Linked DNA regions of Homo sapiens: regions 2 and 3 are each linked to region 1. The links come from fine-mapping of genetic effects on gene expression. A gene starts in region 1. Each other region holds a variant in brackets. All regions are shown on one strand. Distances are from middle to middle.

Region 1 (7,443 bases):
TCTCCTGCCTCAGCCCCCAGAGCAGCTGGGATTACAGGAGCTTGCCAACACGCCCCACTAGTTTTTATGTTTTTAGTAGAGACGGGGTTTTGCCATGTTGGCCAGGCTGGTCTCGAACTCCTAACCTCAGGTGATCCACCTGCCTCGGCCTCCCAAAGTGCTGGGATTACAGGCATGAGCCACTGTGCCCATCCCGGAAACTTTGTAAAACACAGAAAAGTGTAAAAAAAAAAAAAAAAATTACCCATGTTATTGACGCTCAAAACAACTTTGCAATAACCCCAGAGATGTATTTTCAACAAAATTAGTACCATACTTTAGTAATAATAGCTGATATTTACCAAGTGCTGATAATGTATATCTCACATATTCTTACAATAACTCTCTATGTGAAGTACAATGACCACCTGCTTTACAGATAAAGAAACTGAGGCAGAGTAAAGTTAAGTAACTTGTCCTAGGTAATCTAGCCAGGAAGTGGAAAGCTGGGATTGAATCTAGGCCATCCTGCTACACAAACTGCATTTTTTTTTAAGGTGTGGTGAAAAACACATAACATAAAATTTATGACTTTTGACTACTTTAAAGTTTATAATTTACTGACCTTTAATACATTCACAAGCTATGCAACCATTGACTGTAGTTCCAGAACATTTCATCACTCCAAAATGAAACTCTGTATCCATTGAGCAGTCATTCCTCATTTCTTCCTGCCCTGCAGCCCTTGGCAACCACTGATCTGCTTTCTGTCTCTATGAATTTGTCTGTTCTGGATATTTCAGATAAATGGGGTTATACACAATATGGCCTTTTGTGTCTGGCTTTTTTCTGTTAGCATGATTTCAAGATTTATCAATATTGTAGCATATATCAGTACTTTTTTCATTTTTATGTGTGAATAATATTACATTGTATGGATATAGCACATTTTGTTTATACCACACTGATACAGTCATATTGTTGCAGTTCATTCATTGTTAAACATTTGGACTGCTTCCACCTTTAGGCTATTTTGAATGGTGCTTTTATGAATGTTTGTATACAAGTTATTTTCCGAACACTTGTTTTCAATTCTCTTGTGCATATACCTATGAGCGGAATTGCTGGGTCATATGGTAACTTTATGTTTAGTTTTTTAAGGAACCACCAAATTGTTTTCTGCAATGGCTGAACCATTTCACATTCCCAAAATAAATGTACAAGGGTTCCAGTTTCTCCACATACTTGCCAACATTTATTTTCCATTAAAAAAATTGTAACCAACCTAGTGGGTGTGAAGTGGTATCTCATTATGGTTTTGCATTTTCCTATAATGATTAATGATGTCGAGCATCTTTTTATGTGCTTTTTGGCCATTTGTGTATCTTCTTTGGAGAAATGTCTATTCACATCCATTGCCTAGGTTTTAATTTTTATTTCCTTTTGTGTTGAGTTGTAAGAGTTCTTCACATAGTCTAGATACAGAACTCTTACCAGATACTGTATGTGATTTGCTTTTATTCTCTCCCATCCTGTGCCTGTCTTTTCACTTTCTTGAAAAGTGTACTTTGATGTATGAGGGTTTTTAATTTTAATAAAGCCCAATATACCTATTTTTTCTTTTGTTGCTTATGCTTTTGATGTCATAGCTAAGAATCATGAAAATTTACCCTTGTATTTTGTTCTAAGAGTTTTATCTCATATTTAGGTCTTTGATCCACTTTTAGTTAATTTTTGCATATTGTATGAGGTAGGGTCCATCTTCACTTTTTTGCTTATGCTTATCCAGTTTTCAACACCATCTATTGAGGAGACTATTCTTTCCTTATTGAATGGTACTGTCAGCTTTGTTGAAAATCAATTGACTGTTTGGGTGCGGTGGGTCATGCCTGTAATCCCAGCACTTTGGGAGGCTGAGGTGGGCAGATCACCTGAGGTCAGGAGTTCAAGAACAGCCTGGCCAACATGGCAAAACCCCGTGTCTACTACTTGGAAGGCTGAGGCACAAGAATTGCTTGAACCTGGGAGTCAGAGGTTACAGTGAGCTGAGATTGAGCCACTGCACTCCAGCCTGGGTGACAGAAAGAGACTTCGTCTAAAAAAAAAAAAAAAGAAAATCAATTGATCATAGATGAATAGGCTTATTTCTGTATGGCTTATTCTACTATATTTATCTATGTGTTTATTTTTATGCAAGTACCATGCTATTTTGATTACTGCGGATTTTTAGTAAGTTTTGAAATCAGGAAGTGTGAGACCTCCACATTGATTTTTTTTTTTTTCCAAGATTGCTTTGGCTATTTGGGGCTCTTTTAATTTCCGTATGAATTTCAGGATCAGTTTTTCTGTTTCTGCACAAAAAGCCTAGTGAATTTTTATCGGAATTACATTGAATTTGTAGATAGCTTTGGGAGTTTGGCCATCTTAACAATATTGAGTTTTCCAACCCATGAACATGGATGTCTTTCCATTTATTTGAGTCTTCTTGTATTTCTTGCAGCAATGTTTTGTAGCTTTCAGTGTAGCAGTCTTTCACTTTCATGGCTAAGTTTATTCGTAGGCATTTTATTCTTTTTGCTGCTATTGGAAATGGAATTGTTGTGTAAATTTCCTTTTTGGATAGTTTATTGCCAGTTTACAGAAATACCACTGATTTTCTGTTGCTATTGATTTTGTATTCTGCAACTTTGCTGAATATTTTATTAGCTCTAATAGTTTTTTGTGTGTATTCTCTAGGATATTCTATATATAAGATCATATCATCCAAAAATAGATATTGTTTTATTTCTTCCTTTCCAATCTGGATGACTTATTCATGTTCTTGCCTCATTGCTCTGGCTATAACTTGCAGTACTTTGTTGAATAGAAGTGGCAAAAAAATGGTTATCCTTTTTTTGTGTCTAATATTAGTGGGAAGGCTTTCAGTTTTTCATCGACTATGATGATTGCTGTGGGTTGTTCATAAGTACCCTTTATAGCCTATAAGAAGTTCCCTTTTATCCCTAGTTTTCTGAGTGTTTTTATTGTAAGAGTGTTTTGGATTTTGACAAAGCTTTTTTCTGCAACAGTTGAGATGATCACACACTTTTTATCCTATGTCCTACATTCTTTTTTTTTTTTTTTTTTTTTTTTGAGACAGAGTCTTGCTCTGTCGCCCAGGCTGGAGTGCAGTGGCGCGATCTCGACTCACTGCAAGCTCCACCTCCCGGGTTCACGCCATTCTCCTGACTCAGGCTCCCGAGTAGCTGGGACTACAGGCGCCCGCCAACACGCCCGGCTAATTTTTTGTATTTTTTTTTAGTAGATACAGGGTTTCACCGTGTTAGCCAGGATGGTCTTGATCTCCTGACCTCGTGATCCGCCCGCCTCGGCCTCCCAAAGTGCTGGGATTACAGGCATGAGCCACCCGGCGCCCGGCCTGTCCTGCATTCTTAACCACTAGGCCCAACTGCCTCTCCCTTTCTCTATGAATTATTTAATTTTATAGCCCAGTTTTTGTACTTATACCATAAAAATCTTTTTTTTTTTTTTTTTTTTGAGACAGAGTTTCCCTCTGTTGCCCAGGCTGGCGTGCAGTGTGCAGTGGAACGATCTTGGCTCACTGCAGCCTCCGCCTTCTAGGTTCAAGCAATTCTCATGCCTCAGCCTCCCAAGCAGCTGGGATTACAGGCACACACCACCACGGTCCGGCTAACTTTTGCATTTTTAGTAGAGACGGAGTTTCACCATGTTGGCCAGGCTTGTCTTAAACTCCTGGCCTCAAGTGGTCTGCTCGGCTCTGCCTCTCAAAAAGTGTTGGGATTACAGGTGTGAGCCATCACACTTGGCCCAAAAATCTTATTTTCTTTAAAAGCCATTAAAATTATGATTTCCAGAAGCTATATGTTATTTCCTCATTTGAATGTTACATAATTTATTTAATTCTTCTGTGTTATTTAAAAAATGTCAATACTCTATATTTCTTTAGGAACAAAGTCCCTAGAACTGGAATTATTGGGCCAAAGGTTATGAATACTTTTAAGTTATCGTGTGTGTGTGTGTGTGTGTGTTATCTTCAACTAATTTTTAAAAATGTGAACTTCTACCAGCTCGATGTCTATTTAATAAAAGTAATTGATGTGTTCTGAGCTTGCTGCTCACAACTCCATGACCTCTGAGTTAGTTTGCTTTCTATTCCTTTAAGTTCTTCAATCTTTATTGCTACTGAGCAGGCCACCTCCTTCCTTACTTTTAAATTATTATTATTCTTGTTCCTCAGTCTAACCACTTTCCACGCACATTCTGGTCTTTTTTGTTTTGTTTTGTTCATTTGGTCTTATGAATTAATGACTAAGCCAACGGAACCAAATGCAGGAAATACTAAAAACTTACCGGTAAAAGTATTAACACAAATGTGCATTACTACTAAGTATTTCATTTAGCTTGAAAAAAAAAAAAAAGGAATCTGCAGTGTGGTCTGTTTGTTTTTAGCTTATACTGTCTTTTCTTCATCAATATTCATTTATTCCTGTACGTGTGGTTTTAGAACTATCTGGAAATATAGGAACATTGGGAAAAATTGAACTCCACATAAACCTAATGTAGAAACATTAGTTTTACAGAATACTAAAGAAAAGCATTTCTGCTTATATTCATTTTCGTATTTTATTGGATTTTTTAAAAAATCACTTGCACTTAAGGCAAAAACTTCGCACATAGACATCCGGCAGAGAACCCCTCTTTCATTTAAATACAAACCCTAACACATTTTGGCATCATCAGATAAATTTGATTTAAAGCCTGACAAAATTCTAAAAGCAAGGAAACTGAAAAAAGCTGGAAGTCAGAATAAAGATAAATGAAGACACTCATTACAAGACTTAGGAAGTTGCAGCTGGTTTAGCTTTCCTGCGCGCCCAGGAGACGGAGAAGGAAAACTACGACTCCCAGAGTGCTTAGAGAGAACACGCGCGTCGTGGCCTCAAAACTTGCTCCCTTAGTCCCGCCTCCTCACTTCAGTGATTGGATTTTCCACTTCCGCGCCTCTGGAATTCTCTTCACCCATTGGTGGAGACTCCTGCGGGGTCAAATACAGAATTTACGCACCCTTGGCTTCCTTGGAGCCTAGCGGCTCTCCCCGCGTCCAAGATGGCGGCAGAAGCAGCTGGTGGGAAATACAGAAGCACAGTCAGCAAAAGCAAAGACCCCTCGGGGCTGCTCATCTCTGTGATCAGGTGAGGGAGGCAGGAGGCAGGGTCTGGGGACTGGGGGCAGCGGCTCGACCTCCGCTTTGGAAGGGAGAAGGGTTAGCTGGGTCCCACCCTGCTCTCCCCTTTCCTCCTTGCCTCCCGCAGCCCCTCCCCAGGGCTCTAACCCCTCCCCAGGGCCCCAGCAATTCCCCCTCCACCTTTTTTTTCTGGGGTTAGCTATAGAGAGAGGAGCCCCGCCTCAGTCTTTTCTTTAGGGGCAGCACCTTCTATTACAGTCTCGGGACCCCAAAGCACGCTATTTGGGTTTGGTAGAGAAAACCAGGTGTAAAGGTGTGTTTATTGATTCCTAAAATGCTTGTTTATTGTTTGCCTGTAGCAGCACTCACTGAGAAAGGCGTCTTGTTTCCTGGACTTTGGGGTGTAAGGCCTTGGAGTCCGGAGATTCCTGTCACGAGTTGCAGATTTGTGTTTTCACACTCTGGATACTTTCAACCACCTGTGCGTGGCCACAGCCACAAATACAAGAATCTGCAGTGAGCTGGTAGGAGGACTGGGTTTGAAGGCACACATCGGTTTTCAATTTTTTGCCCTGCCTCCGCATTCTGGTCCATTCCTTAAAAAACAGAACCAAACCAATTTCAAATTATCCTCCATGCACTGCCCCTCTGCACCTCCCAGAAGATTAGGGTGGGGGTGGAGTGGGAGCGGTGGATCTTTTAGGAGCTTTTTTTTAAAAAAGCGAAATATATTGAGGATGGGGGAACCCTTTCAAGAATCTTGGATATGATGCAGGTACTGACTAAAACCAATCTAAATAAAATTTATTATGGCACGTTTTTTACGTTGTTGGCATTTGAATTTCAACTCGTTTATTTTTCATAAACAAACACTCTATTTTTCCCCACCTATACTAAACTTTTGTTTGAGTTCTTGCAAGTTTTCTGGAATGTATTGATCATCTTTTCAAAACCCAGGGCCCAACATTATCTGGTAGGTACTAAGCACTTCAATGAATGCATGTATCAAACCATTAGAACAGCTTACCACTCACTGACAAAGACACATCTTATGGGTCTTATTTAGGAGGCTTTAAGATTATGGCCTATTAAATCATTACTTTAATTTTCTTTTGGGCTTAAGAGAAAAACATCTCTGTGTGGAAATGCTTAATATACTTGGTAGGCCATACAGAGGAAGTGCTGTTGTATTGTGAATCTATAGGCCCACATTCTCGCTGTGACAATACGCAGGTAGTGTAGATGTATCTCATGATACTAAAATTCCAATAAGAATGTTTGTTGTTTCCCATCTGAATTTCCTGTGGAATTAGAATACCAGGACATTATTTGGATCCTTTTTTGAACTTGTTTGTTTTTTCTACCTTATAGTCAACATTTATTTAAACAATAGGTATTTAGTGCCAGTTGACAGTATGGCGTCTGGCACGTATTACATATTGAATAATATTTGTTGACTTAATGAGTAAATGCCCTGAGTTTTGCAAAGATGAAGCAGGCACAGTGTTACCCTTGAGGAGAGTATAGTTTACCTGGGGGATAAAACATGTCAGTAAAAATGATGACATAAGACTACGAGAGAGACATGAAATGTTATGGAAATCCAGGAGGAGTGGCTGTTTCTAATGAAAGTGAAATGTGTCATCTCATCTGTGTACTTTTGATTCTCCAGGCTGTTCCCATTTCTTTTATGCTATTTGTATTTTCCTCAGGGCCAGTTGAATTTACTCTAAATGTCATATTTTTGAAAACAGCATGAAAGCCAACCTAAAGCTTTTTTTACTAATGCTAATTCAGAACATACATTGCCTTTGCTTGACCATTCCTTAATATTCTCCAGGAGGAACCCCCTACTGCTTGATGGCTAAGATTTTGTGGTTATCCATCCATCTCTTATGCCAGTTTATTAATATATGACCTTCATTTTATCACTGTGATTTAGGCCTAGGTATTTTTTACTTTGATCTCTGTTGTGCATTATATTGCTTTTCTTTTCTTTTCTTTTCTTTTTTTTTGAGACAGAGTCTTGCTCTGTCCCCAGGCTGGAGTGCAGTGGCGCGATCTCGGCTCACTGCAACCTCCGCCTCCCAGGTTCAAGTGATTCTTCTGCTTCAGCTTCCCGCATAGCTGGGATTATAGGCGTGCGCCACCACACCCACCTAATTTTTGTATTTTTGGTAGATACAGGGTTTCACCATATTGGCCAGGATGGTCTCGATCGCTTGACCTTGTTGTCTGCCTGCCTTGGCCTCCCAAAA
Region 2 (5,000 bases), 570 kb after region 1:
CTTCAGTCTGGCTATGCCTCTCCAATGGCAGCAGTGTCAACATTCCCAGGGTCAGCTCTTTCTCCTGTAACTCCGTTTACATTCAGTTCAAATTTCACTTCCAGTGTTATCACTTTGCGGTACTTTTATCTTTGTTGGCCAATTCCCTCTTTCATTGATCCATTTTTATAAAATGCCACATGGATTTATCAGTGGGGGACAGGGAGGCACCACAGCTGCTTGCTTTGCTCCCTGTCCATGAAGTGAATAACAAATGCACAGTGACCAGTTGCTAATAGACATTGGAAGAAGGGATGTGATTGGTCACTAATCATGATGAACACACATCAGTTATTTACACAGGGATTTCAGAGGAGCTACCAACAAAGTTTATACTTTAGTTACTTAAGTTTAATGTACTGTGGTGACTACACTGTGGTATTGAGGTATTTAAACTATGTAATTGATGGACTGATGTTATTTAACTAAAAAACAGTAGTAACTTCAATTTGTTCATATTAAACCACACAAATCAGGGCTGCCTGTATAGAAAATTAAAAAGAATTTAATAATAAATTTATTTTGTTATTAAAATAAGAATTTTAATAAATCTATACTCATCTCTGAGACTTGACAATCATTAACATTCTGTTATGTATTCTTTAAGGGTTTTTAATAGAGGAAGTAGATCATTGCAAGTAAGGTTGAAGTTCTCCTTTGTCCTCCAACTCCCATCCCATTCCCTTTCTTAACCTCTGAACTCACATATCATCATGAATTTTAGAGTATCCTTCATTCTCTCTCTGTTTCTCTCTTTTTGACATTTATATATATACATGTAAAGCAGCAATCCCCAACCTTTTTTGGCACAAGCACTGGCTTCATGGAAGACAATGTTTCCACGGACAAGGGTTGGGGGAAAGATGGTTTCGGAATGAAATTTCCACCACAGGTCAGATATTAGACTCTCATAAGGAACATGCAACCTAGATCCCTCACATGCACAGCTCACGGTAGGGTTCATGCTTCTATGACAATCTAATGTGATTGCTGATCTGACAGGAGGCGGAGCTCAGGTGGTAATGCTCGCCCAGCTGGCTGCTCACCACCTGCTGTGCGGTCTGGTTCCTAACAGGCCACAGACCCGTACTGGTTCATCGCCCGGTGTGGGGGTAGGGGGACCCCTGATGTAAAGGTTTCGGTGGGAAATATGTACTCTTCGGGGATGTGCTTTTTAATTTCACAATAATTTGTGTTTTTTGTTTTTCACATTTTCCCATTGTTTCTTGTAGTCTTATCTCCTTCTGGAATTAAAAATAATTTTTGTCTTCTCCTTTTCCCCCCATTTTTAGAAGTCATGTTTTCTGTTTCATCCTATTTCTATTCAATTAGTGGAGTAATTTAGATTTTTACAAGATTAAAAATTATATAGAGATGAGTATTATTGATGACCTGCCCTCTTCACAGAAATAGCCAACACTAGATATACTCATGTCCTCATGTCGTATTTATATAACATTTTCCTCATAAATTTAATAACCTTCTTACTGTTTGTCCTCCAGATTTATTCAGGAGATTGAGCATGCTCTGGGTCTTGGCCCAGCCAAACAGTGTCCTCTTCGAGAGTTTCTCACCGTGTACATCAAAAACATCTTTCTCAATCAAGTCTTGGCTGAGATCAACAAGGAGATTGAAGGAGTCACTAAAACATCTGACCCTTTGAAGATTCTGGCCAACGCAGACACCATGAAGGTGCTGGGAGTGCAGCGGCCTCTCCTACAGGTAATAATACACTTTGAACTTACTATTTTTATCAGCAATTTTCATTGACTTGGCAAGTGTCATAAATTTAAAAAAGAAGAATTACCATCTGTTTCCATATTCATCAGGGACAAAACAAAAGAAAATAAATAGGCACTAGGGAAATTTAGATTTAATGTAGTTGGATAATGGAAGTTCCTTAAGATCTTTAAGGAAAATTAAAAAAAAAAACGGTTAGCTTTGGATATGAGAGATGGTGAATCTCATTAACATGCAGGCAGTTCCTCATTATTATGCCTGGAATTGGTCCTTGAAAGGAACTATTTTTCCATTGGTGAATGCATCCCTGAGTATGAAGGATTAACAGGAAGGAAGCTATGATGCCCAACTTCAATTACCAGCAGGAAACCCTCTATACCTTTTAGGGGCAGACTTACCTTTCAATGACTTGGCTACCTCACAGGGAATTTGAACCAGTAAACTGACCTTTAAAAGTCAAATCACTGAATTCACATGATGATCTTGTTAGTACTGAAAATTTTACTTTATAT[A/G]AAAAAATGGTTTCTTAGCATCAGAAAAAATAAAATAATCTGTCAGTAGATTTTTTGATTAATAGGCTTGAGGCATATATTTTATATACATTTTAGCTGGTGACTTGGAGGTATATATAAAACTAAAACAAAATTAGTAGGAGTTTAAATTATAGGTATACATTAACTATTATTACGTTGGAATTGAATCCTTATTGTGTTTCTTCATTTAAGAGTAGGATGGGCACAGTCTCACACTTTTACCTAAATTGTACAATATGAGACTATTCAACATGTGGAAGGCTTGAGCTTTTCAAAGAGAAGTTGTATATATGGAAGGGAGTTTTACTTGTTCCAGTTGCCTGCCCTTACCTGCCTTTACATATGTTTCCCTTGATTTTTCTTTGTATGTTAGAATTTACAGAAGTGCTGGACCTTTCTTAGAGAAGCGTCCTAGTTATGAGCATTCTTTTTTATGAGCAAGCTCTTTTATGATATTGATAAAATAGAATAGGAAGATGTTCATTTGGATGGTCTGGGTCTCTGTTAGCCATGTGCCTGGTGAGGGATCTGTACTGAGTGTTGGGTGCAGAGAAGGGGGAATGCCAAAGGAACGTGCTTGCTCTTCCTTCTGCTGGATATCTCTTCCGGCTCTTTGCATGGCTGGGGTCTTCTCCTCTCTGGGTGTCACTTAAAATGTCATGTCCACTGGAAGGCTTTTCCTGACTGTCCTACCTAATTAGGTCCCCTTTCCTGGTTATTCTCCATTCTCCCATTTTTCCTTACCACCAGCCCCATCCATTGTCAATACTGAGGCCAAACCCTATGGACTGTGTCTGTGGACTGTGTCATGGAGGCCCCCTTGCCAGGTAGCTTCTGATCAGGTTCTGCCGATAGGCAGCACAAGTAGAAGATTGGAAAGTGGGAGGAGAAAGAGGGTGGGTGATTTCTTCTCCCCTTCCTCTTCACTTTGGATCATGGCCCTGGCTGTGAGTGCCTCCCTCCATAACAGGAGATCCTGCCAGGTGACACATCCTCCATAGCTCCAGCTCTCACTGGACTCTGGCAATGTCATTTCTTCTCCTTGCCTCTTGATTTCAGCTTTCTGCTGTTACAACCTCTGGATGCCTCAGTATCCCTTGTTCCTGCTTTCAACCCTGCCCATACCTCTGTAAGTTATTTCTTCATTCATATTTCTTTATTTGAATTATCTAAATGGAATACTTTTTTTTTTTTTGTCAAGATCCCAGATAGATCTCCCCAGTTAATCAGGATTTTAACACTTTGGTTTTTTCTTCCTAACACTTATCACAACCCTAATTATTAATTAATTTTGCTAACTTGTATATTTTCTATCCTTTCCCACTAGAAGGTAAGTTCCAAACACATATTATAATGTCAGGCAGCAGGAAGGTGCTCAATGAATAACTTACTGGATGAATGCATGTTGCATGGATGGATGGATGGATGGATGGATGGATACAGTGAATAAGTTTCGAGAGTCATAAGTACCCACAGAGTCAGAATAAGGAGATGAGAAATAGAGAGTAACAAAAATATGTTTACTTTTATGTGTTGTCTGACCATATCATTAGCCTCATTTCCATCAGAAAGCCTTTCAGTATTTATTTCTCTGAAGTGTCACGCTATATGCCATACAGAGCAACTTGAACATGTTTAGTGCACTGAATTTAAAAGGAAAAAAAAGGCATCAGTACATTACAGAGTGAGTCTGTGAACCAATAATACTGGCTTATTAAATGTGATAATTTGCAGCTTCAGTAGCAAAGATGCATTAAAATCATAACTCATTGATCTGGGCCATGTCAAGGCCATATGCTACCAACAAAATGACATATCTGGGCAGTCTGTCCATGTGCCTGTCAGATCACTCCCAACCTCATCACCGCCATTTTGTACATGTTACTGTGCCTCTTGTCCTTTAAGTCACCGTGAGGCTAGGTAAGAACTCCAGCTTTACCTGTTCTCTCTTTGACCTTGTCAACATATAATTATATATAAGTGAATAAGTCTTGAGGCTAAGACCATTCAAGCTATTAACCTGCAAATTTTTTTTTCTAGAGTTAACACACCTGCTTCATTTTTTTTTTTTTTTTTTTTTTTGGTGATTATGTTGCTCTCCTTTTTTTCATTAAAAAAATTTATTTTATGAAAATGCAAATTATTTAAACCATATCACTAAGTTTGTTTAATATTCTCAGAGAGAGTTATGCAGTTTAAAAAGCAAACAAGGAGATGGTTATTTTTTTTTCCTATCTTTGGTATTTTCCTGCATTATAGTGATTGTAAATTGTTTTCTAATAATTCCCCATACTCAAGCTTCATTCTTTTTTTGTCTTCCTCTACAAGCACAGGGTGAATTTTATTCTTGAATTTTTTCTATGTTTCCTTAATATTTTATTCCCAGCTAATTGTAGGTGGCTAATCTGAAAAAAGAATAAGAAATAATTCTCAAAAATTTTAGCTGAGAATCCAAAACAAATGTTAAGAAGGAGCTTGGAGAAATATGTGTGTGCGTGAAAGATGCATGTGGGTTAAATATTCAATTACAGGAAGTATAAAAATGTCCTTTAAAATTCTTCCCTTTGCTAAACTGTTGTTTGGTCACAGAGTAGAAGAGAGGACATGCCTTTCCCTGTGGCAACACCCAGTGTCACACAGCATCAGCCCAGCCGGATTCTCCAGGGAGGGTGGGAGGACAGCTGTCTC
Region 3 (7,704 bases), 820 kb after region 1:
CCATTTATGGAACACTTCATGTGTATCAGGTGCTGTGCTAAATGCTTTACCACATTATTTCATTTAATCCTCACAATAATCCTACAAGATGTATATTATTATCATCCCTACTTTACAGAGGAAACTAAGGCTCGGATTAAGGGCTTTGCACCAGATCTGGTAAGTGAGCCAGCTCTGCCCAACACCAGAGTTCATTCTGGAACCGTAGCCAAATCCAAAGCTCATACCACTCGTCTCACAACAGCCAATAAGACAAGACATACTCAACTATTCTTTCCAAATAAAGGAAAGTGACTTTATTTCAGGAAGCCAGCAAACTGAGAAGATGGCAGACTGGTGTCCTAAAGGACCATCTTCAAAGGTATGAATCTCAAGCTTCTTTTTATATTGGGTAAAGGGAACAAGGAGGGGGTTAAGGTCAGGAGGTGACAGGTGACCACAGACATCTGGGTGTCAGCAAGAGTCTGAGGGAGTTTCATAACTTCTTTTTCTTTGTTCAGGTCACAGCACTCCTACAAGTCTTTAGCATAACATTGTTCTTGGGTGTATGCCCTTCTTATCTCCTCAGGGGTTAGTTTGGGGAAGGCCCTATTATCATCCTTGCTTTAAAGTTAAGCTATACACTAAATTCCTCCCATAGTTAGCTGGGCCTACATGCAGGAATGAGCAAAGGCAGTTTGCTTGGGGGTTAGAAGCAAGATGGAGTCAACTATGCTAGATTTCTCTCACTGCTACAGAACCCCCCTCTGTGCTATTTTGAGCCAAACCCCCTTGTCTAGTGTGGCAAAGGCAGGGACTCTCACATGCTATATTTGAGCCCCAAGTGATACTGGTAGTCTGACTCATCCATTCACCCTGTCCTCTCCTGTAACCTCCAGCAGGAACCATTTCTGGACCACATTTGGGGCCACCATTGCCCACTCTCCTCTCTGCTTCTCCTCCACCCACAGCTGCCTGAGCCCATCCCTGTGACCAGTACATTGACAGAAATCTTGGAAACACAAACCTTTGGTTCAGGGGCTGACCCCCCACCAGTTGGAGGCTGGAGATAACCCCAAGAGGTTGAAGCTAAATGCTCAGGTTCTAGAATCTGGTGTATCTTGGCTCAACATGTTGCCTTAGCCTTCATAGGGGAGGCAACTTATCTTTTCCTTCTATCTATCTTAGGTTCATTGTCTGGAACCCCTGTAACAAAAGACAGATTAAGAAGAAGAAAGCATACTAATTTATTTAATGTAAGTTATACATGAAAAAAAATGAAGACCTGAAGAAGTAATTAAACCTGGGTGGGGTTTTGCTGCTGTTTGTGGTGGTGGTGGTGATGGTGTTTTCGAGGCAGGGTCTCGCTGTATCGCCCAGCCTGGTCTCTCACAGGAGGGTCTTAGGCCTGCTTCAGGGGAAGGTCAGAAAAGTCTTCCTAGGTTTTAGGACCTGCTGCAGAGGGGAAAGAAGAGGAATGGCCAGGGGAGGTCAGAGAAACCTTCCTGAACATGCTGTTTCTCAAATTCCTTCTGCTTAAACTGTTCGCTATGCTAAGGTGCCAGATTTGGGAGTAGCGTGTCCTGAAGACCATCAACTTTGCAGGTGGTTTGATGTGGTTACAAGTGCTTAAAAATGCCCTCTGTTGCCTCATCTTTGAAATGGGATAACAGTGATACTAATAGCTCCTGTCCAACAGAGGCATTCAGTGCCTGGCATGTCATTAGTATTATATATACATAACAAATAATATCCTGTCTGTTTCTTTGAGGAGTTTCAGACACACTATCAAGAAAGCCTGCTGTGTTGAAGTGTAAGAGTGCAGCCCCGCTTACAGCGCTTCTTGGTTAGAAAGGCCCAGGCTAGGCTGGGCATGGTAGCTCATGCCTGTAATCCTGGCACTTTGGGAGGCCGAGGCAGGTGGATCACTTGAGGTCAGGAGTTTGAGACCAGCCTGGCCAACATGGTGAAACCCCATGTCTACTAAAAATACAAAAAGTTAGCCGGGCATAGTGGCGGGTGCTTATAATCCCAGCTACTCAGGAGGCTGAGACAGGAGAATCGCTTGAACCTGGGAGATGGAGGTTGCAGTGAGCCAAGACCATGCCATTGCACTCCAGCCTGGGCAACAGAGAGAGACTTCCTCTCAAAAAAAAAAAAAAAAAAAAAAAAAAACAACAAAGAAAGGCCCCAGGCTATGGCAGGGTGGACCCAAGACTGTTACTTGCTGTATGTGGACACCTAAAGGCCCCCAGAACCATCCATCCTCATCATAGAAACTGGACGTTCTGATCTTACACGATTGTTTCAGCCCCCTCCCCACACATGCCGACTGCCCTCAGTGTCTGCTTCCTTAAGCCTGCTTCCATTTTAGCTATTAGCGAGGGTTTTGCATCTCGTTGCCTGCCAGCATATTATGTGCATCTCATTAACTCTGAAGGCTCCACTACCCTTTAGGGACCAGACCTTCACAGACGTAATGGCCTTCTGCCTGAGGTTTGAGTTTGCTGTTACTCTTTCTACCTTGGCTGAGGAATGTCAGCCCATGGATTTCTAATAAGTTCACAAATTGCTCTATGAAATTGAGGTGAGAAAAATGTCACATTCTTTTTTTTTTTAATTTTTAAAAATCAAATCTGGCTTGGAGCCCCCACTTAACCATTCTCAGCAGAAGTCCGACTCCAGTCATTGTGATTTACTCACAGGCAGGGGATGGGGGTTTTGGTGAGAGGCTTCCCCTCCTTCAGGTTGCACCAACACCCTGCTGCTGAAGCAGGTCAGGAGAGCGGGGTGAGCACTACGTCATCAGGGCATCCTGATCACTCTTTCCCCGGGCTCCTTCTGCGACACAGTGAAGACTCTAAACACTGTCTGGTGCTGTCGTCAGGCCCTGCCCTCCACAGGCAGAGTCTTTTCTAGTGTGCCCAGGCTTTGTTCCGGGGACCTCCAGGCCTCAGTGTCCATCCACCACAGGCATCCCTCACAGTTGCCTGACACGAGGTCCTGCCCTCTGTGGGCACTGTGAGCTGGATGTCGTGGAGCTACCGTGCATGCTACAGCCCTTGTCTCTTCTCAGCTTTGGGGGACCCAACACTCCAGGTTGGGCAGTTCTCTCCTCTTTCCTCCTGACCCCAGAGTCTCTTTCCTTTCTGCCACTGGGAGAGCAAACCCTCCTTCCCTGGGCCTAGACCTTTCAAAACAATAGGCTGCTGGAGGGATTATCTGAGTGAAGATAAGTTTTCTCTCTCTCCTCCCCTCCCTTCTTCTCCCCTTTCTTTTCTTTTGCCCTGAAACAAGAAG[C/T]TTGTTAACCAGACTTCTGAGGATAAAGAGAGCCTGGACTCAAGAGCAATCCCCAGGTAACCCTATAGGGTGGCAGTGGGAATCTTTTATCCTAATTTTGGGTGGGGGGTTGGCATCAATTACTTTCTCAATAACACCTGTTGTGGATTCATAGAAATGGATAGAACCTGAGAGAGCTTCCGTCCCAACCATCTCATTTTTCAAAGGAGCCAGAGGAGCAAAGGGAGGAGGCCCAAGAGGAGAGTGGGGATGCCTAGTTCATGTCTGAGCCAGGACCAGCATCCAGGTCTCGACTGCCACTCCCAGGATCCTGCATTTGGGAGCCCCCAGGTGAATCATGCTGTTAGACTGCCAAGTGGAGGGATAGAGGCAAGGTCCTGCCTTCAAAGACATGAATGTCGCATGGAAAGAACAGGGCAACACACACGAATCCACTATGGAGTATCGTAAGCCAGTGTACCACTGAAGGCTCACGGAGCATTTCTGAGGAACTCAGTAAAACGAATAATGATTGTAGACTATCGTTAGTCAAATACAACTTAACTGGGAAAATGGAACTGGACCATGGTCTTGAAAAACAAGTGGAGCTAGAGAATCAATGTGAGGGCTGAGATGAAGGTATGCAGTTTGTCAACCTCCACAGTATAAAAAAAAAGTAAGCAAAGAAAGTGAAGCAAAAGAAAACTCAGGAGTATGAGGAGGATCAGCACAGTGCAGTCATGAAAACTAGCCAAGGCAAACCTGCCTAGCAGGAGGCCTGGCACATTTTGGATGTTCTTGACTTCTTTTTTCTTACCTTGCTGGCAGTCAGCAGATACATGGGATCTTTGAACCCTCTAGAATTACATGCATACAGCATGGGTGATTTGGGGTGATGGTGTATAAGTGCATTATATGAAATCAGGTCTGAGGTTTTCATTAGGTTCTCAATATATCTTGCTCTCCCTCTTCCAGGAATATAGTAGGATTGCATTTCTGAGCCTGTATTAGTCCGTTTTTACACAGCTGATAAAGACATACCCAAGACTGAGTAGTTTATAAGGAAAAAGGGGTTTAATGGACTCACAGTTCCGCATGGCTTGGGAGACCTCACAATCATGGTGGAAGGCAAAAGGCTTGTCTTAGATGGCAGCAGGTAAGACAGAATGAGAGCCAAGTGAAAGGGGAAACCCCTTATAAAACCATCAGATCTCATGAGACTTATTCACTACCGCAGAACATTGTGGGGGAAACTGCCCCCATGATTCAGTCATCTCCTACTGGGTCCCTCCCACCACACGTGGGGATTATGGGGGCTACAACTCAAGATGAGATTTGGGTGGGGACACAGCCAAACCATATCAGGGCTCTTCTGTGTTTGGGTGGTACCATGGGATTAGGTGGCCAATAAGTTATGAGTAGAAGGGTGTCACTTCCCAACCAAAGCCATTTAATTACCTGTGTGAAACCCTCCAGAGCTCAGTGCCCCCTCTGTCACAATGGCCAGCAATGTTCCAGATAGTGACCACTCACTCAGCTAGGGTTCCAGAGGGAGGAAGATGCAGAGCAGAGCCCCAGCTGACCTGCAGTGGACATATGAGGTAAGTAAGAAATACATCTTTGTTGTTTAAAGCCATTGACATTTTGAGATTGTTTGTTACTGCAGCCTAACCCTCCCTATCCTGACTGATACACACAACGAAGAGGCTGATCACAGTGAGGAGAGCAGAAAGAGCAAGGGAATTTCAATGAGGGATGAAATTTTGACTTTAAAGAGAACTAGTTGAGTGGAGGATTGAGAATAAGAGCCAAATTTAGAGGCTGAAGGATGAGAAAAGATAGTGATTTCCCAACAAGTCCTCAGTCAGTACATGTCTGTCCTAAAGACAGAAGCAACAAGGCTGGGCGCAGTGGCTCACACCTGTAATCCCAGCACTTTGGGAGGCCGAGGCAGGTGGATGACGAGGTCAGGAGATCAAGACCATCCTGGCTAACACGGTGAAACCCCGTCTCTACTAAAAATACAGAAAAATTAGCTGGGCGTGGTGGCAGGCACCTGTAGTCCCAGCTACTCGGGACGCTGAGGCAGGAGAATGGTGTGAACCTAGGAGGCGGAGCTTGCAGTGAGCCGAGATCACGCCACTTCACTCCAGCCTGGGGAACAGAGCGAGACTCTGTCTCAAAAAAAAAGACAGAAGCAACAAGTATGTGTTGTTCACTCAAGGAGTGTATTAGCCAGGGTTTTCCAGAGAAATAGAACCAATAGCATATATATATATCTCTCTTTAACATATATGTACATATCCAACATATAAACAAAAAATATATAAATATATATCTAACATAGAAAAAACTATCATCTATAATTGTATATATATATATATATGTATATCTCAATAAATGAACAACAAATATTCTTCACTTTTTTGTGCTAACCTTGTTAGAACTCAGCAGATACATGGAATCTTTGCACCCCTAGAATTACATATACAGATGATCAATGACTTACAATGGTTGGACGTAAAATTTTTTGGCTTTACAATGGTTCAAAAGCAATATTCATTCAGTAACACTCCATAACTTACATCCTGATAAACCCATCATAAGTTGAGGATCTGCATATGTGTGTGTGTGTGTATAATAGAGAGAACAGAGCAAGAGAGAGAGAGATGAGGAGACAGAATTATGGGAGTTGGCTCACATGATTATGGAGACTGAGAAGTTCCCTAATCTGCCATCTGCAAGCTGAAGAATCAGGAAAGCTGGTGATGTAATTCAGCCCAGGTCTGGAGGCCTGAAAACGAGTAGAGCCAGTGGTGTAACTTTCAGTGGGGGAGTTGAAGGTGGGGGACTGGTCTAAGTCTCAGAGTACAAAGGCTCAAGAACCAAGAGCTCCAATGTTTACAGACAGAACAATATGGATGTCCCAACTCAAAGAAAGAAGGAAAGACTTGTCCTTCCTCCACCTTTTTATTCTATCAGGGCCTTCAACAAATTGGATGATGCTTACCCACATTGGTGAGGACAGATCTTTACACAGCCTACTGCTTCAAATGCTAAGCCCTTCCAGAAACACCCTCACAGACAAACCCAGAAATAATGTCTTACCAGCTATCTGGGCATCCCTTAGCTCAGTCAAGTTGACATATAAAACTAACCACTGTTGCGGGATTCAGGAGGACGAGAGAGACCTCAGGTTGAAACAGGAGAATCTTTATTGAGTGCGCTCAGGCCCAGCTGACTCACCTCCAAAAAATTGGGCCCAGAACAAAGACCGCACCTGAATTTTATACACACTTCACAAAAGGGGGTGGGCTAGCTTAAAGCAAGCTTACAGGGGCATGAAAGCAGGGATACAGAGGGAGGACAAAGACAGGATTGCACATGACTGTTGCCAAGCAACCCAGATGTCTGTTATCTAGGTTTGTCTGAGCACAGGCTTATCCTGTAACCTTCACTATGGTGCCCAGGCAGCTGTAGTTCAGGCCTACTCAGGCTCCTCATGACCTTCATTGTACTTCTTAGATAAAACAGAATACTTGAAGTCACTAGTTACAGAGAATAGGAATCTATAAACTCATTCCATAAAACAAAGGAAAATTTGTTTTTCTTCTCCTTATGTTGAGGGAGTGCTGGGAGAGTCTCCAGAGCACATTAGATAATATTATCAAGACTTTTCCTGGATCTGGCTGTGCCTGTTGCTGCCTCTGGGACAAGTCAGCCTAATACAGGAAAACTTATTTTGCTTTCTTTTTAATTTGATTTTTCTTTAATTTCCTGCATCAACCATCACAGTGAGCAATCCTGGATCCCCCCAGTTTATTTATGTCTTTTGCTTTACCCCCCTTTTTCATTTATTTGAACTCCTGTAGTATTAGTGAGCTCAGATACATAGGTCTTAATTCAGTGTCTCTGAGTACTCACAGGAAAGCTTCTATGTAAATCCAACACATAAACAGAAAAAAAACTATAATAGTTAACTATATATAATATTATATCTATAATATTATAGAGATTATAAATCTGCTGTCTATAATAATTAACTGTTATTAAAGCTTAAAACCCCCTACAAGTTGCCACACATCCCTGCTCCAAAATCCTGATGTCTAATTATCTCACTGGACCAGCCCCTTTTTCCTTAGGAACTTTCTATTTCAGTACCATTTATTACCCATCCTCAGCAGTAAGTGTTTACCCTCTAACAACGTAGGCCCAATCACCAAAACATGAAAAAGATTGGGGAAAAGAATATATTTTTCTACCCTCCTCCCCAACAGCTTAGAGTTCCTTGTATTTCTCTGATGTCCCAGTGGATGTAAATGTTAATGGTTTTGAATGAGATTTGAAGTTGCAATCTTAAAATGAGGAAACATAACACTTAAATGCTGTTAATTCAGCTAGCTTTAAGAGACTAATAAAGCACAAGGTACTAGGCCTCTTGGCAGT

Direction of the effects. Positions count from the first base shown, and alleles are read on the strand shown. Sizes are in standard deviations (SD) of each study's normalised expression. Not every link is listed here.
With allele A in place of G in region 2, the expression in breast of the gene that starts at base 5,083 in region 1 is higher (moderate effect, 0.49 SD a copy in GTEx).

What was found. PIP is the estimated chance that this variant, and not a neighbour inherited with it, causes the effect.
Region 2: its variant is the best candidate, but not a certain one, in a credible set for the expression of EXOC4 in breast (GTEx, PIP 0.84).
Region 3: its variant is the best candidate, but not a certain one, in a credible set for the expression of EXOC4 in whole blood (TOPMed, PIP 0.52).

The regions. Positions count from the first base shown.
Region 1 is chr7:133,247,996-133,255,438 of GRCh38, forward strand. It overlaps EXOC4 (exocyst complex component 4), which reads left to right and starts at 5,083. Exons shown (of 18, transcript NM_021807.4): 1 at 5,083-5,192. The coding sequence starts at 5,107. RefSeq lists enhancers at 4,850-4,899, 5,110-5,169.
Region 2 is chr7:133,815,784-133,820,783 of GRCh38, forward strand. It overlaps EXOC4 (exocyst complex component 4), which reads left to right. Exons shown (of 18, transcript NM_021807.4): 11 at 1,542-1,761. The region is part of intron 3 of LOC101928861 (a long non-coding RNA gene); the gene reads right to left. Among named protein-coding and RNA genes, the nearest start is that of LRGUK, 310 kb to the right of the region's middle. The variant A/G (reference allele first, on the strand shown) is at 2,292.
Region 3 is chr7:134,071,079-134,078,782 of GRCh38, forward strand. LOC105375514 (a long non-coding RNA gene) reads right to left here. Exons shown (of 3, transcript XR_007060531.1): 1 at 5,960-7,704; 2 at 4,717-4,841; 3 at 1,349-1,434. It also overlaps a transcript of EXOC4 not described here. Among named protein-coding and RNA genes, the nearest start is that of LRGUK, 52 kb to the right of the region's middle. RefSeq lists an enhancer at 514-613. The variant C/T (reference allele first, on the strand shown) is at 3,280.